2 separate regions of the Homo sapiens genome follow, and region 2 is linked to region 1. The links come from fine-mapping of genetic effects on gene expression. A gene starts in region 1. The other region holds a variant in brackets. All regions are shown on one strand. Distances are between the middles of the regions.

Evidence for each region.
Region 2: its variant is fine-mapped to the expression of OSGEPL1 in whole blood (INTERVAL, PIP above 0.99).

Annotation. Positions count from the first base shown.
Region 1 is chr2:189,758,521-189,767,076 of GRCh38, forward strand. OSGEPL1 (O-sialoglycoprotein endopeptidase like 1) reads right to left here and starts at 4,272. Exons shown (of 9, transcript NM_022353.3): 1 at 4,165-4,272; 2 at 2,900-3,140. The coding sequence starts at 3,120. It overlaps OSGEPL1-AS1 (OSGEPL1 antisense RNA 1), which reads left to right and starts at 4,260. Exons shown (of 2, transcript NR_102429.1): 1 at 4,260-4,472; 2 at 6,335-7,036. It also overlaps a transcript of ANKAR not described here and a transcript of ORMDL1 not described here. RefSeq lists enhancers at 3,755-3,914, 4,201-4,947.
Region 2 is chr2:189,921,586-189,930,141 of GRCh38, forward strand. It overlaps a transcript of AKAP19 not described here, the pseudogene HNRNPCP2 and the pseudogene RNF11P1. Among named protein-coding and RNA genes, the nearest start is that of MSTN, 140 kb to the right of the region's middle. The variant C/A (reference allele first, on the strand shown) is at 5,064.

The sequences.
Region 1 (8,556 bases):
TTCCTACACAGCCTGTGGAAACACGAACCAATTAAACCTCTTTTCTTTATAAATTACCCAGTCTCAGGTATTTCGTTATAGCAGTGCAAGAATGAACTAACACAGGTTATAATATTCTTTCCATCTCCATTCACTGAAGGCCTAACGAAAGGCCACTGAACACCTGTGATGTGTCAAACATTGTGTTAGGCACTAGGCATAGCATAGTGATTAATATAGACATGGCCCCTGTCACCTTGGCACTTAGACTCTACTGAGAGAGATTATACATACACAAGCAAATGTATAAATTGTGAAAGTATTACAAAGAAAATATGCAGGGTATGATGATACAGAATAAATAGGATGGGAGTACCTAATTTAGATAAAGTGGTCAGGGTAGTCCTTTCTGTGCCATTAACTTTTACATGTTCAAAAGTTCAGTGCACTCAGGAAAAACTGAAAGGACTGTGAAGCTGAGGCACGGTAATAATAGTTACTGTCTGCACCACTTGTTTTTCCTTATGCTATGCTGCCTTGCACTATTAATTCTCCTTGTAGGTCTAGACATCATGTCTCCATAATCAAGTTAAGCTTCCTTAAACCAAGGACTTTGCAGTACTTCACAGTGCCTTACTAATATCCAACACAGTCCCTTTCACATAGTTATTGTTTGAGGCTCAATCTGCCTCTTTACATACATTATTTCTAATGCCACCCTCCCGTAATTCTATGAGGCAGATGTTAATTTTCCTTTTTTTTTTTTTGAGACAGACTCTCACTCTGTCGCCCGGGCTGGAGTCCAATGGCGCGATCTCTGCTCACTGCAAGCTCCGCCTCCCGGGTTCACGCCATTCTCCTGCCTCAGCCTCCCAAGTAGCTGCGACTACAGGCGTCCGCCACCACGCCTGGCTAATTTTTTTTGTATTTTTAGTAGAGATGGGGTTTCACCATGTTAGCCAGGATGGTCTCAATCTCCTGACCTCATGGTCCACTTGCCTCGGCCTCCCAAAGTGATGCGATTACAGGCGTGAGCCACAGCGCCCAGCCAATTTTCCTATTTTACTGATGTGAAAACAGAATCAGAGAGGATATGGAACTTGCCTACAGTTACAGAGCCAATACCAAGTGCTTAATTCAGGATTCAAATACAGGACTGTGATTCCAAAATACCAGGCTTTTTCACTATTCAGATGTTGTAAATTGATAGCTTAAAGGTATACTCATCTGTAGAGTATTTTATTCTTATTTATTTATTTATTTATTTTTTTAGTATTTATTGATCATTCTTGGGTGTTTCTCGGAGAGGGGGATTTGGCAGGGCCATAGGACAATAGTGGAGAGAAGGTCAGCAGATAAACATGTGAACAAAGGTCTCTGGTTTTCCTAGGCAGAGGACTCTGCGGCCTTCTGCAGTGTTTATGTCCCTGGGTACTTGAGATTAGGGAGTGGTGATGACTCTTAACGAGTATGCTGCCTTCAAGCATCTGTCTAACAAAGCACATCTTGCACCGCCCTTAATCCATTTAACCCTGAGTTGACACAGCACATGTTTCAGAGAGCACGGGGTTGGGGGTAAGGTTATAGATCAACAGCATCCCAAGGCAGAAGGATTTTTCTTAGTATAGAACAAAATGGAGTCTCCTATGTCTACTTCTTTCTACACAGACATATTAACAATCTGATCTCTCTTTCTTTTCCCCACATTTCCCCCTTTTCTATTCGACAAAACCGCCATTGTCATCATGGCCCGTTCTCAATGAACTGTTGGGTACACCTCCCAGACGGGGTGGCAGCCGGGCAGAGGGGCTCCTCACTTCCCAGAGGTGGCGGCCAGGCGGAGGGGCCCCCACCCCTAAGACGGGGCGGCTGCCGGGCAGAGGCGCCCCCACCTCCCAGACGGGGCGGCTGCTGGGCGGGGGCGCCCCCCACCTCCCAAGAGTATTTTAATATATTCTAAATTAGCTACTAATGTAAAAAATCTGCAAATACATTAACAATCTGGATTTCCAGCCCGGCGCGGTGTCTCACGCCTGTAATCCCTGCACTTTGGGAGGCCGAGGTAGGTGGATCAAGAGGTCAGGAGATTGAGACCATCCTGGCCAACATGGTGAAACCCCGTCTCTACTAAAATGCAAAAAATCAGCTGGGCGTGGTGGCACGTGCCTGTAATCCCAGCTACTTGGGAGGCTGAGACAGGGGAATCGTTTGAACTCGAGAGGCGGAGATTGCAGTGAGCCGAGATCATGCCACTGCACTCCAGCCTGGTGACAGAGTGAGACTCTGTCTCACCAAAAAAAAAGAAAAAAAAAATCTGGATTTCCATTTTCCCTTGAAAATTATAATAATCTAATAACACAGGTCCTGCATTCCCACATGACAACTGGCTAGAGCTGAGTAGTGACCTCCTCCAGACATTTTCCACTTTTTATCTTGTCCATTTATTTAGGTAACCTGCCTGGTAGTCCTCTATAAACATCACAGTTTATAATCCTTGCACCATTCTATGCTTTAATACAACAGTGTATTATTATTTAAGTACTAATACAAGTTATATGTATAAATATGAATAGGATTTTTTTTTTCAATGACTAACAGTTTTCCTAGGACTTCAGCTGAGACCATGAAACATAGAAGTGGAGAAAAGAAGGAATGCATTACTGAAGGAAAATCAATAAATACGGAAGCTGGGAATGAGCTCAGTTTCTTTTGGCAACAGGATTAGTTAAGGTTGGGACCTTATTGTGAAGACCCTTAAAAGCCAGGATGAAGTGTTTGAGGTTTTCTATAGCAGTTATTAAAAGTGTTTGCAAAAAGGAATAAGACAGTAGCTCCTGAAAACTTTTATATATGACAAATACAAAAGAATGATTTTACTTTTTCCAAAAAAGTGGAAATGACTAAGATAATGTCTACTTACTTTAAATGAACTTCAGTTTGGGAATGTATTGCTTCTCCCAACACATTTCCAGTTTCATCCACCACAGCAGCTGCTGTATCATCACAACTAGTTTCAATTCCCAATACTATTTTATGAAGAAATAGTGTTCCAGGATGAAAATTAAAACTTCTTAAAAATTCATAAACTTTCCTTTTTGATGGTTTAAAAAAAACTCCTGCAGTCTTAGTCAAGATTAGCATACTTACTCTATAGATAATTCCTGAAAAAGAATTACAGAAACAACTTATTATTTGCAACTGACATTAGCCAGCTTATTTTTCAATATATAGTTTTACAGAATTACAGGAAAGTTTGTAAAAGTCACCAAAAGTTTGTAAAGGCTATAGCAACATGGGAATATAAATAATATTATGAATGAATATAATGTTCTCCAAGGGGGAAAACAGGGGTCAGATATAAAATTTTTTAGTATTATTATTACTTGCATGCTGTTCCTACCAAAAGACTTACTATTAAGACAGCTAATATAAAGTACAATAATTGATAGAGTCCTCTGAAAAGTGCTATTTATTTTTTGACAGCTAAAATTAAGACAAAATGTGGATTTTCTAAAAAGAATCAAACAACAAAGGCAGATGGAACAGATAAAAATACTGTTAATGTATTCCATCTCCTAAAAACATCTTTCAAAATAAAACTGGATCATTTGGTTCAAAAACAAGAGTTAACATAAACACACACACGCCAACTGCAACCTAACACCTATTTTATCCTTAATTGCAATCTTTGGAATTAAATCTCCACTTTTTGCTACAGGTTTTGTCATAACAAGGATCTTCCCAAATCCTTTTCCCCCAAAATAATAGCAGCCCATCACTAAAGCACACTAGTATTTTCACACTGCGAAGCACCTAATTTTATGCCCCCAGATCATCCGTTCTAAAACTTTCTGGGTGTTAAAGCAGGGCCTTTCTCCACCACACTAAAGGGACACGGCATCCCAGGGATTAGAGATGAGCGACCTATTTGCAGAAGGCAGTTGCGGGCAGTGCAGCCCAGACAGACACAACCTAGAGGAATTAGATTTGCATTAACAAAATCTGGACAAGGAGGATTGTACGAAGCACTACCCTTTCGGGCCAAGAAAGCTGCAGGCTGAACCCACGTGACTTGGGTAGCGCTGGTCTCCTGTCGGCTGTAAGGCGGCGACGGGCGCAAACTGGAACCGCTTTTCCAGGTGCGCAAAAGCGTCAGTGGGGTGAAGAGTGAGCAATTTCACCCACCTTCCACTTGGGCGGCAGTAGCTAGCACTTGTCTCCTTTCCCTACTAAAGACTGTCGACTGCCCTTATCGCTGCAGGAGAAAGCCCGAACCTGGCGCCCGGAAGTGATGTCATCGGAACTGTGCAAGGTCCCGTCCAGAGCTGGCTGCTGTTCCGCTAGCGAGCGGCATGCTTAGTGAAGAAAAGCTTAAAGGCCGTCTTTGCCCAAAACGCTCTCTGTGCGCACCTGCATTTCCCCCAGATTTGCAGGTGATGAGAGTTCTGTAAAATTACACAGCTAGTGACTGATCCAGCGGAGGCCGAATACAGGTTTGTCTGACTACACAACATCAAGTTCCAAACACTAAGCTACATTAAAAAGAAATTTTTTTTTTGCCCTTGGCTGGAATTTGGTTGCTACTGTGAGAAAAGGATGGGGTAGATTATTCGTCATTCATTTTTAAGGGAACTATCATCAAATCTAAACTTAGGGGTGAGGTACCTGATACTTTCATCGGAGAAATAGGATGGAATCTAGCGGCGCCCCCTAGCAGGGTTACCAAAGAACGGAAGTGTTTCTCATCGGACAGTGTAAACCGTTTCTCCCACTTCACTAGGAAGAAAGGGGCTGGCTTATTTTTACAATTAAAAAAAAAAAAAATCGGGAGACTGAGGCAGGAGAACTGCTTGAACTGGGACCCGGGAGGCGGAGGTAGCAGTGAGCCGAGATCGCGCCACTGCACTCCAGCCTGAGCTACAGAGCGAGACTCTGTCTCAAAAAAAAAAAAAAAAAAAAAAAAAAGGCTGTGGTAAATATTCAGTTGCCTTAAACCATCCTATTTTCATAATGCATTATGTTGTCCTTCCTTACTATGTACATGAAATTCAGCATGGTATGTTTTCAAAGTCTTGCACCTGCTTTTTTTTTTTTTTTTCTTTTATTGGTTTGTGAACTTTGTTTTGAACATTGGACAGATTTATTCCAAGAGTCAGGCTTTTCCCCTGCTGGTATTTAAGATTTTAGTAAGCAAGGACCTTAGAATCCACTGTTGTACAGGGCTGGCATATATACCTGCACTTTGCACGTTGTGAAGCTCTGGGTATAAAAGATGAGTAAATCCCATAACAACATGTTGGGAAGCCACAGAGTACAGTCTAGAGGTGGATACAGATAAATAAGTAAATAATTACCAGAATATGGTTGAGGTTTTTTATTTGGAACTTATGTTTTTCAAAAATTTCATTTATGTGTAACAATAATGATAAAGTGGCACTATGTACCAGGCACCTGCTGTAGATTAATTTCTTTCAAAATCCCATGAAATAGTTTCTGTCCTCATTTTACAGGCAACTGGGCCACAGAGTTTGGGTGCTTTGGAGGTCACACAACTAGGAAAAGCAAAGCTAGGATTAGAAGTCAGGACATCTGGCACTGGAGTCTGTTTTCTTAACTGCTAGAAGAGAAAATAACTCACATTTTCTCTAGGGTGCACTGTTGGCCTAAACAAGGGAAAAAAGAAAAATTAAAACCTAAAAGTTAAGAAAAATTAGTCATACGGTTAGAGAGGTCAGAGCTTATTTCTGTTATACACTGGAATCCAGTTTGAACATAAAACCTTTCACATCAGGTATTATTTTTCTTACAATTCCAATTATGTTCAGCAAGTATATCCCAATGCTCTTCTGTGCTGTCAAGACAAGCAAGATCCTATTGTGTGTGCTATCATTGGTAGATTCCTCGTCTAGGCACTCTTGGCCAGTGTTGAGTCCGAATGCTGTTATTATGTGAAACAGGAGAACTCTAGGGCACATTAGTATGGAATTTTATCTTTCCCTTGACCGAATATATGTAAAGTGGCACTTATACAAGTCCCATGTATTTAGCAAAGATATACATTTTTTATGTTCTCTATTGTAACATAGGAGAGGGTTATTGGGGGAAAGGCATGTATGCTCTCTGAGGCCTGTCTGTACTTTTATGCAGATAGTTAGAATGCCACTCATGGGCATTCTCAAAAAATATGGCCTATGTAAGTTCAACATAAATCGAGAGTTCCAGCTGAATCTAGATATGCTTATTTGGTCTCAGATATTGTGTGTCTAGCTTTCCATTTGTAGCCTTCAGAGGAAAATTTTATTATTAATACATATTATATATTAAAACATATAAGAATCTTTCTTTTTTTTTTTAGATGGAGTCTCACTCTGTTGCCAGGCTGGAGTGCAGTGGTGCCATCTCAGCTCACTACAACCTCCACCTCCGGGGTTCAAGCGATTCTCCTGCCTCAGCCTTCCGAGTAGCTGGGACTACAGGTGCCTGCCACCATTCCCAGTTAATTTTTGTATTTTTAGTAGAGATGACATTTCACTATGTTGGCCAGGCTGGTTTTGAACTCCTGACCTCGTGATCCACCTGCCTCAGCTTCCCAAAGTGCTGGGATTACAGGCATGAGCCACCACGCCTGGCCCAAATCCTATTTTTCAATATTTATTTCCTAATTATGTCCTACTAGGTTAGGTTTTATTTTCATTTGTTACATATTTATTGGGTTATTTCCTTTATGCTAGGAACTTTATTAGTATAAGGATACAGATAAGGTCCATTCTCTGTTCTCAAGAATCTGAGTCTACAGGCAGAAGACAAAATGCAGTACAGAATTATGGAAATGTGAATGGAAACTGCATTCAGAGAGGGGTATTGCTTGGGAAAAGCCACATTGGCGTGCCACAGATGTATGCCAGCCTGGCAGGCCCATAGTGTGATTACTTGAGTTTCAATATCTGATTCTTTTATAGGCTTGAAATTGGTTTATCAGGTCTGGAAGTGACTGGACTCTGGAGTACTGAGTTACCCACCACAAACTGCTAATAAAATGCTGTGTAAAAGCCATTAATACTAATGTATTATTTATGAGAAACACAATTATGGGGAAGCTAGGATAGTTGAGTTTGCTGGTCATTATCTTCCTTGTATTGACCAAATTACAATGAAGGCTAAATCCAAATTATAATCAGAAGATTGCTTGGTAAATACAGAACAGAAACAATAGAAATGTGTGTGGTGCTTTTAATGGCTAGTATTTCAAGCCTGATGCAGCCCTTTCCACTTGAGTCACATTGTCTTACATTCTTTGACTTGGCTAGTGCTAAAAATACATTGCCATTTTACTTTCTCCATTTTTTTTTTTTTTTTTTTTTTGAGACGACGTCTGGATTGCAATTGGTGTGAGGTTGGCTCACTACAACCTCTGCCTCCCGGGTTCAAGCGATTCTCCTGCCCCAGCCTCCTGAGTAGCTGGGACTACAGGTGCACGCCACCACGCCCAGCTAATTTTTGTATTTTTAGTAGAGACGGGGTTTCACCATGTTGGCCAGGATGGTCTCCATCTCTTGACCTCGTGATCCACCTGCCTCGGCCTCCCAAAGTGCTGGGATTACAGGCGTGAGCCACCACGCCCAGCCCATCCTTTCTCCTCTTAAATTTTCTTTGCTGACCAGTATCTCTTGATGTGGAACGTTCTTTCATTAGTGGTAATACTGTCAATCAGGTCTTTGGAAGATATTTTGGGTTTTGTTTGCTGAACCATTATGCTTATTTTACAAATTAACTTTTCTGAACTTTATTGTGGTAGAATTTACATAACAATTTACCATTTTGACCATTTTTAAGTTCAAAGGAACTAAGTACATTCACATTGCTATGCAACTATGACTACCATCTAGCTCCAGAACCTTTTCATCTTCTCAAACTGAAATTCTGTACCCATTAAACAATAAGCTCCCAGCCGGGCACAGTGGCTCGCGCCTGTAATCCCAGCACTTTGGGAGGCTGAGGTGGGCGGATTACCTGGAGTCAGGAGTTCGAGACCAGCCTGGCCAACATGATGGCCATCTCTACTAAGAATACAAAAATTAGCTGGTTGTGGTGATGAATGCCTGTAATCCCAGCTACGTGGGAGGCTGAGGCATGAGAATCACTTGAACCTGGGAGGCAGACGTTGCAGTGAGCTGGGATTGCACCACTGCACTCCAGCCTAGGCAACAGAAGGAGACTCCCGTCTCAAAAAAAAAAAAACAAAACAAAAACAAGAACCAATAAGCTCCCATTCCTTCTGCCTTCCAGCCCTTGGCAACCACCATTCCACTTTAAATTTGATTATTCTAGGAGTTCATAAAAGTGGGGTAACACAGTATTTGTCATTTTGTGACTGACTTATTTCACCTATCATAAAGTCTTCAAGATTCATCCAAGATGTAATATATATCAGAAGTTTCCTCCTTTTTAAGGCTGAGTAATATTCCATTGTGTGTATATGTCACATTTCTTTTAACCATTCATCCCTTGATGGACACTTGGATTGCTTCCACCTTCTGGCTATTGTGAATGCTGCTGCTGTGAACATAGATGTACAAA
Region 2 (8,556 bases), 160 kb after region 1:
GAATTATGGATAGATTCCATTCATCCTTCCTATTTTTAATATGGGCAATAAATAGCATGTGTATGTGCTAATGGGAATGTTTCAATAGAGAGGGAGTACTTCACAATGTAGAACAGAGAACAGAGTAGACCTAGAATTAGTTTGAGTAAAAGAGTAAGATCATCAGAATTTGTGTAGTATGATCAGCTGGCAGTCAGGAAGGTGTGCAGACATATCACCTTCTCACACATAATGAAGAACTATTAATTTGTTCACCTGACATTAAACAGATATTATGAACACCTGGATATGCAAAGTACTGACTGGGTTAGGCTCTGGGGAAAGGGTGATAGTTGTCTCTGTCCTCATGGAACTAGCAATTCATTAAATAGAGAATTTAAAATGAATTGGTAAGTATAAAGAAAGATAGGGGAAGTATAGGGTGCTGGATGAGCACATAGCAGAAAGGTTCTGGAAGAGGTAACAATAAAGTAGAAATGTGAAGGATTAGTGTGAGCTAGCCAGGTGAAGAGGGAACAATGAAATTGGCAGAAGAAATAGCATATACAAAAGCCCAATAATAAGAGAAACCTTAAAGAAGTTCTGTTTGGCTGAAGCTCACTAGATAAAAGGGTAATAGCAAGAAAGGAGACTGAAAAGACAAGGATCATATCATTGTAACTTTTGTTAAAGTGTTGGCTTTTGCTGTGGCTGGTCATTGAAACATTTTAAACAGGAATTATATCAGATTTTAGAAGAAAAACAATTCTGGCTACTGCTTGCAGAATACATCAAAGGAGAGCCAGAAACAAGGAGACCAGTTCGAAAGCTATCAGCTTAATCCATAACCAATATGAGTTGTCTAAACTAGACATGGGTATAGAGAGAAGTAGGTAGATTCAGCAGATACAGTTGATCCCTGCTGGTGAATTCTGTATTTGCAATTATGCCTACTCACAAAAATTTGCTTGTAACCCCCAAATCAGTACTTGCTGTACTTTCACAGTCATTTGTGGACATACACAGAGCAGCAGAAAAATTTGTGTTGTCCAATGCACATGTTCCCAGCTGAGGTTGAACAAGTCAACATCCTGCCTTCTTTTAGTTCTTATACTGTAAACAAATATCTTTTTTACCTATTACTTATTGCTATGTTTTTCTCATATCTGCACTTTTTATTGGTAATTTTAAAGTTTAACCTGGCCCTAACCATATTTTTAAAGTACTGTCTATATAGTGTTCCTCAGTGCAAGAAGGCCATGATGTACTTTATGGGGCAAGTATGTTTGTTAAGATAAGCTTCTACTGGGTGCGGTGGCTCATGCCTGTAGTCTTAGCACTTTGGGAGGCTGAGGCGGATGGATTGCCTGAGCTCAGGAGTTCAAGACCAGCCTGGACAACACGTTGAAACCTTGTCTCTACTAAAAATACAAAAAATTAGCCGGGTATGGCAGTGTACGCCTATAGTCCCAGCTACTCAGGAGGCTGAGGCAGGAGAATTGCTAGAACATGGGAGGCGGAGGTTGCAGTGAGCCAAGATCGCACCACTGCACTCCAGCCTGGGCGACAGAGTGAGACTCCATCTCTAAAAAAATAAATAAATAGGCCATTTTGTGAAGAGACGAAGACTGAGCGGTTGCGGCCGCGTTGCCGACCTCCAGCAGCAGTCGGCTTCTCTACGCAGAACCCGGGAGTAGGAGACTCAGAATCGAATCTCTTCTCCCTCCCCTTCTTGTTTTCGGCTTTGTGAGAAACCTTACCATCAAACACAATGGCCAGCAACGTTACCAACAAGACAGATCCTCGTTCCATGAACTCCCGTGTATTCATTGGGAATCTCAACACTCTTGTGGTCAAGAAATCTGATGTGGAGGCAATCTTTTCGAAGTATGGCAAAATTGTGGGCTGCTCTGTTCATAAGGGCTTTGCCTTCTTTCAGTATGTTAATGAGAGAAATGCCCGGGCTGCTGTAGCAGGAGAGGATGGCAGAATGATTGCTGGCCAGGTTTTAGATATTAACCTGGCTGCAGAGCCAAAAGTGAACCGAGGAAAAGCAGGTGTGAAACGATCTGCAGCGGAGATGTACGGCTCCTCTTTTGACTTGGATTGTGACTTTCAACGGGACTATTATGATAGGATGTACAGTTACCCAGCACGTGTACCTCCTCCTCCTCCTATTGCTCGGGCTGTAGTGCCCTCGAAACGTCAGCGTGTATCAGGAAACACTTCACAAAGGGGCATAAGTGGCTTCAATTCTAAGAGTGGACAGCGGGGATCTTCCAAGTCTGGAAAGTTGAAAGGAGATGACCTTCAGGCCATTAAGAGGGAGCTGACCCAGATAAAACAAAAAGTGGATTCTTTCCTGGAAAACCTGGAAAAAATTGAAAAGGAACAGAGCAAACAAGCAGTAGAGATGAACAATGTTAAGTCAGAAGAGGAGCAGAGCAGCAGCTCCGTGAAGAAAGATGAGACTAATGTGAAGATGGAGTCTGAGGGGGGTGCAGATGACTCTGCTGAGGAGGGGGACCTACTGGATGATGATGATAATGAAGATGGGGGGATGACCAGCTGGAGTTGATCAAGGATGATGAAAAAGAGGCTGAGGAAGGAGAGGATGACAGAGACAGCGCCAATGGCGAGGATGACTCTTAAGCACATAGTGGGGTTTAGAAATCTTATCCCATTATTTCTTTACCTAGGCGCTTGTCTAAGATCAAATTTTTCACCAGATCCTCTCCCCTAGTATCTTCAGCACATGCTCACTGTTTTCCCCATCCTTGTCCTTCCCATGTTCATTAATTAATTCATATTGCCCCGCGCCTAGTCCCATTTTCACTTCCTTTGACGCTCCTAGTAGTTTTGTTAAGTCTTACCCTGTAATTTTTGCTTTTAATTTTGATACCTCTTTATGACTTAACAATAAAAATGATGTATGGTTTTTATCAACTGTCTCCAAAATAATCTCTTGTTATGCAGGGAGTACAGTTCTTTTCATTCATACATAAGTTCAGTAGTTGCTTCCCTAACTGCAAAGGCAATCTCATTTAGTTGAGTAGCTCTTGAAAGCAGCTTTGAGTTAGAAGTATGTGTGTTACACCCCCACATTAGTGTGCTGTGTGGGGCAGTTCAACACAAATGTAACAATGTATTTTTGTGAATGAGAGTTGGCATGTCAAATGCATCCTCTAGAAAAATAATTAGTGTTATAGTCTTAAGATTTGTTTTCTAAAGTTGATACTGTGGGTTATTTTTGTGAACAGCCTGATGTTTGGGACCTTTTTTCCTCAAAATAAACAAGTCCTTATTAAACCAGGGGAAAAAATAAATAAATAAATAAATAAATAAAAATAAGCTTCATTATGGTATGAGTTATACTGCTGTTAACCATGAGCTCAATGTTAGTGAATGAAAGGTGTGTTTAAACAGAAACACACTTTCTGTCCTAGACAATAATCTCTTCTCATTATACTCATTTAACCTTGAGGGAGGGGGTTTCGCCTCACATTTCTGGCTTCAGAAACCACGTATTGCACATATGAAAGTGAACCCAAAGATTATCCTATCCTAAACTGTTCCTGAGATTCATTCATACCCACAAACAGACCTATGAACATGTCCAACTGGATGTCTTTTAGGAACATCTAACAATGTTGTGTGTTGACTGATTGCTGAAAATCTGTGACCAGAGGCTCACAGGAATGTAATCCTCGGTGGTTTAGTGTTCACTAATTCAGTATTCATAGCAACTTTATAAAATATAACTTATGCAAATAATAATAATCTACTCAAGTAATAGAATATACTAGACTTAATAGTTCCTTAGATGGAGGTAATGATGAATGAGAAATAAAAGATAATTCCCAGGTTTTTGTCTTATACAAGTGATAGTGACATTTATGAAAAGAGGAAGAGCAGTTTTCAGGGAGGCAGTAACCATAGGGGCTAGAGATAATAAGTTTAGTTTTTGACATGTTGAGTTAGATGTTCCTGAAAGACATCCAACTGGACATGTCCATAGGTTCATTTGTGGGTATGAATCTCAGGAACAGTTGAGGATAGGATGATCTTTGGGTTCACTTTCATATGTGCAATACATGTTTTCCGAAGCCAGGAATGTGAGATGAGACGCCCTAACCCAAGGTTAGGGTATAAGATGAGAAGAGATTATGGTCTAGGACAGAATTTTGAGAAATGTCAGTAAAGAGATGACTAAAGGAAGAGGGCATGCAAGGATACTAGAAGCAGAGTAGAGAGAGAAAAAATCAAGAAAATATACATTATCAAAGCCAGAAGAAAAGACCATTTCATGAAGGAAGGTGTTTGTATTATCAAATGTTATCAAGAGATTAAGGACTAAAAAGTATTCATTGGATTTAGTGAAAAGTACATTTATAGATCTTTCTGAGGATAGTCTCATGAAGTAATGATGGAAACTTAATTATACTGGATTGAGTAGACTGTGAAAAAGAAATCTGATTTGAAATTAATCTAGATACTTTTTCTTTAGTTTCTAAGTTTTCTGTTCAACTTTTGCATTATCATTGATATTCGGTTGATCACATATAAGCAAGAGATATAGGCATTTTTTCTTGACTATTTTCCAAGGATGAACCCACTAAATCTCACTGTTTATGGAGCTTTCCATTTCACTCTGTGGAAATGACACAATATGTTCCATCTCTGCACAGATAGAAAGATGCGCAATGATTTTTACACTTTTTTTGTTTTGTTTTGTTTTTTGTTTTTTTGAGACGGAGTCTCACTCTGTCACCCAGGCTGGAGTGCAGTGGCGCGATCTAGGCTCACTGCAAACTCCGCCTCCTGGGTTCACGCCATTCTCCTGCCTCAGCCTTCCGGGACTACAAGCGCCCACTACCATGCCCCGCTAATTTTTTGGGTTTTTAGTAGAGACGGGGTTTCACTGTGTTAGCCAGGGTGGTCTCGATCTGCTGACGTCGTGATCCGCCCGCCTCGGCCTCCCAAAGTGCTGGGACTACAGGCGTGAGCCACCGCGCCCGGCCTTTTTTTTTTTTTTTTTTTGAGACGGATTCTGTCGCCCAGGCTGGAGTGCAGTGGCGCGATCT[C/A]GGCTCACTGCAAGCTCTGCCTCCCAGGTTCACGCCATTCTCCTGCCTCAGCCTCCTGAGTAGCTGGGGCTACAGGCGCCCGCCACCATGCCCGGCTAATTTTTTGTATATTTTTTAGTAGAGACGGGGTTTCACTGTGTTAGCCAGGATGGTCTCGATTTCCTGACCTCATGATGCGCCCGTCTTGGCCTCCGAAATTGCTGGGATTATAGGCATGAGCCACTGCGCCCGGCCTAATTAATTGTTTTTCTAAGAGCAAGGATCTTACTTTGTTGCCCAGGCTGGAGTCCAGTGGTGTGATCATAGCTCACTGCAGCCTCAAACTCCTGGATTCAAGTGATCCTCCTACCTCAACCTCCCAAGTAGCTAGGGCTATAGATGCACACCACCATGCCTGGTTAATTTTTTTTATTTTTATTTTTTGTAGAGACAGATCCCTGTCTCTCTGTTGCCCAGGCTGGTCTTGAACTCCTGACCTCAAGTGATCCTCCCACCTCAGCCTCCCAAAGTACTGGGATTACAGGCATGAGTTCCCATGCCCAGCAATGAACTTAATTTTGCAATACCTTTGCTACTTTAAATATTCAGTACTCAGGCTGAAATCTCAGTTCTATGCTCTTTCTTTTCTGCTAACTATAAAAGTTTAGAATAGCTTAATATATTATACACTTTTGGTCAGAGAGTGAATAGTTTATAGAGTATAGAGGAGTTTTTTTAAAAATGAAATCGAATTAACAGTTGAACATTCACATTTCAAGAACAAAGTGAAAAATAGTGTACAAATAAGTTTTAGTGAGAATAATATTGATTTTATGCAGCTATTCTTTTCTTTTTAACTTTTAATGTGCGATAATGGTAGACTTACAAAAATAGTATGAAGAATTCTGTATACACTTCACCCAGATTCTCAAAATATTAACGTTTTACCACATTGCTTTACCATTCTTTCTTTTCTCTGAAACATTTTGAAGATTTTAAGTTGTACACATGATGCTCCTTAACCTCTAAACAGTTCAGTGTTTTTTCCCTAAAAATAAGGATATTCTCTCGTGTAATCTTAATACAGTCATCAAATCAGGAAATTAACATTGATATAGTACTATTGTCTAGTATATAAGCCTGTGCTGTTCAGTCTGGTGGCCACTAGCCATATGTGGCTATTTAAATAAATTAAATACATTAGAAATTCAGTTTCTCATTTCAGGCACTCAGCAGTCCAGTGGTTATTGTATTGGAGAGCATAGATATAGAACACTACCATCATTGCAGAAAGTTGTATTTGTAATGCTCTAGACATTCAAATGTTGCCAGTTGTCCCATTAATGTCTTTTGTAGTAAGTAAAAGATGATTTTTTTCCTGTTTCAGGAATGATTGCGCAATCAAGTGACATTTAGATTTCATGTCTTTTTAGTATTGTTTAATCTGGAATTGTTTACAGAATTAATTTATCTTTCAGGTCCTTAACATTTTTCAAGAGTTACAGGCCTGTTATTTTATGAAATGTGCCTTATTTGGAGTTTGGTGTTTCCTTCAGATTAGTATCAGATATTGGATATTCAGGAACAATACTACAGAAATGCATTTGTGTCTTTTTCAGTGAATCATATTTGAAGGCCCATTGTATCAATTTTTCTTGTTACTGGTAATGTTAACATTGATTTATCAGGTTCATTGATCTATTTCCATTGTAAAGTTGGAGAAGCTTTTTTTATTTTAAAAAAGTTCATTTACCAATTTTAACAATTGAGAAAAAAGTCTGACTATAATACTTGATGACATAGACATCATGTTTAAGTAGAAAACACAAGAATAAAAAAAGCAATTATCACAGATAATATTTCACAACTTCAGTTGTTTCCTTCAAATTTGCTTTATGTAATTGGGTGGATATAAATTAATAAACAGAAATTTAAGCAAGATACATGTAACAATTTAACACAACTTGATACTCTAATTTCTTTCAATTTTTCTCAAATTCATCTTTAAGTCTTTCCATCATGGGGCTCATAAGGAAATTTAACCAACATATGGATACTATAGTTGAATGTCAAATCTTTACAAAGTACTTAAGAGATACTAAATTCCTCTATATTGCAATTATGAAGAAGCTTCATGACACTGTGTTTTGCATGTAGAAAAATGTTAGAGTCCAATATGCAGCTCAACATAAAATAATAAGAAACATTTCTGATTTCTTTGTTAGGTTGAGACCACTTTTCCTTTTCCTAATGAATGATTTTTCTTTACTGTTATGTCACTGAAGTGAAAAAGTAGGTCACCTAGGAGTATATACGAAAAAATAAATACATTAAATGGATAAAACATTACTACTATGTCTTTACCTCTAACACTTCAGAAGCCTAGAGATTTAAAGTATTCTTACATTAAATGGAAGAAAAAATGGAGAAATTCCTTCTTTTTTGAGATCACAACTATGAAGTCATGTGGTTATACAAATTCTGCATTTGTGTGCAAAATGTGAAACACACTTTTTGCTTCTACTTGCTTCATTTTGTCAGTTAGCTAGCAGGACTTAATAGATACCTTTCCAAGAAACAGGGACTGAGATGTGTTTTATGTAACTTCAGTAACCTCAGCATTACAGTAATGAGGGATGCAGTATCTTTTTGCTATGGTTCAAGACAAGAGGGAAGGAGGTCACAGGAAACAGAATAAATCAAAATTGTTACAGCTGAGTAACTATTTCTCATGAGGTCTCACCGTGGTGCCACCTTCATTTTTCATAAACATGGTGGCATAATTCAATCTCAATAAATCAGAATTCTTAATATTTAAAATTTACCTTGATTTTCAATTATCACCATATTAACAACCAAAATAATTAGATAAAACACACAGGAAAGTGTAATATTAAACCCCACTGTAATAGAGTTGGTTTATTGACACTTTTTTTTTTTAATAGAAAAGGGATAGTACATCTCAGTTTGCTTACAAGCTAGGATATCACTTTGAATTCTGCATTTCCTGACTGCAAACAGAATATAGCACTTATAACAGATTATAAATAAACTGGTTTTCAAGCATAGAACTAGCCCAATGATAATAATACACTATTTAAAAGGACCTAAGGCAATGAATTCCATTTCTAATGGAAAAAAATAACTGTGCAAACAAGCTTTAAACTACTTTTTTTGTGTGTGCCAGTGTTATAAAATGCAGCTTTTAATAAAACCTTGACCCAAATGCCAGTAACATCAGAAAAGAATTTGGGGATGGGGAGGGGGAAGAGAAGAAAGTTATTTCATTTAGGAAAATAACTACTATCTTTTGCTTATCTTCAGTACATACAATTTAAACAAATACAGCTGCTGTAACACTTTACACAATTCCTATGTACTGGAGCAATAACAAGGTCTAAATACAGTTATATTTTTGAACATTGGGTCAAGGCCTTACATAAAAATACCATCCTACTTTTCTCTCTAAGTTTTGAAATATCATGTACTTTCCCCCAACATCTGCAGCCATCCA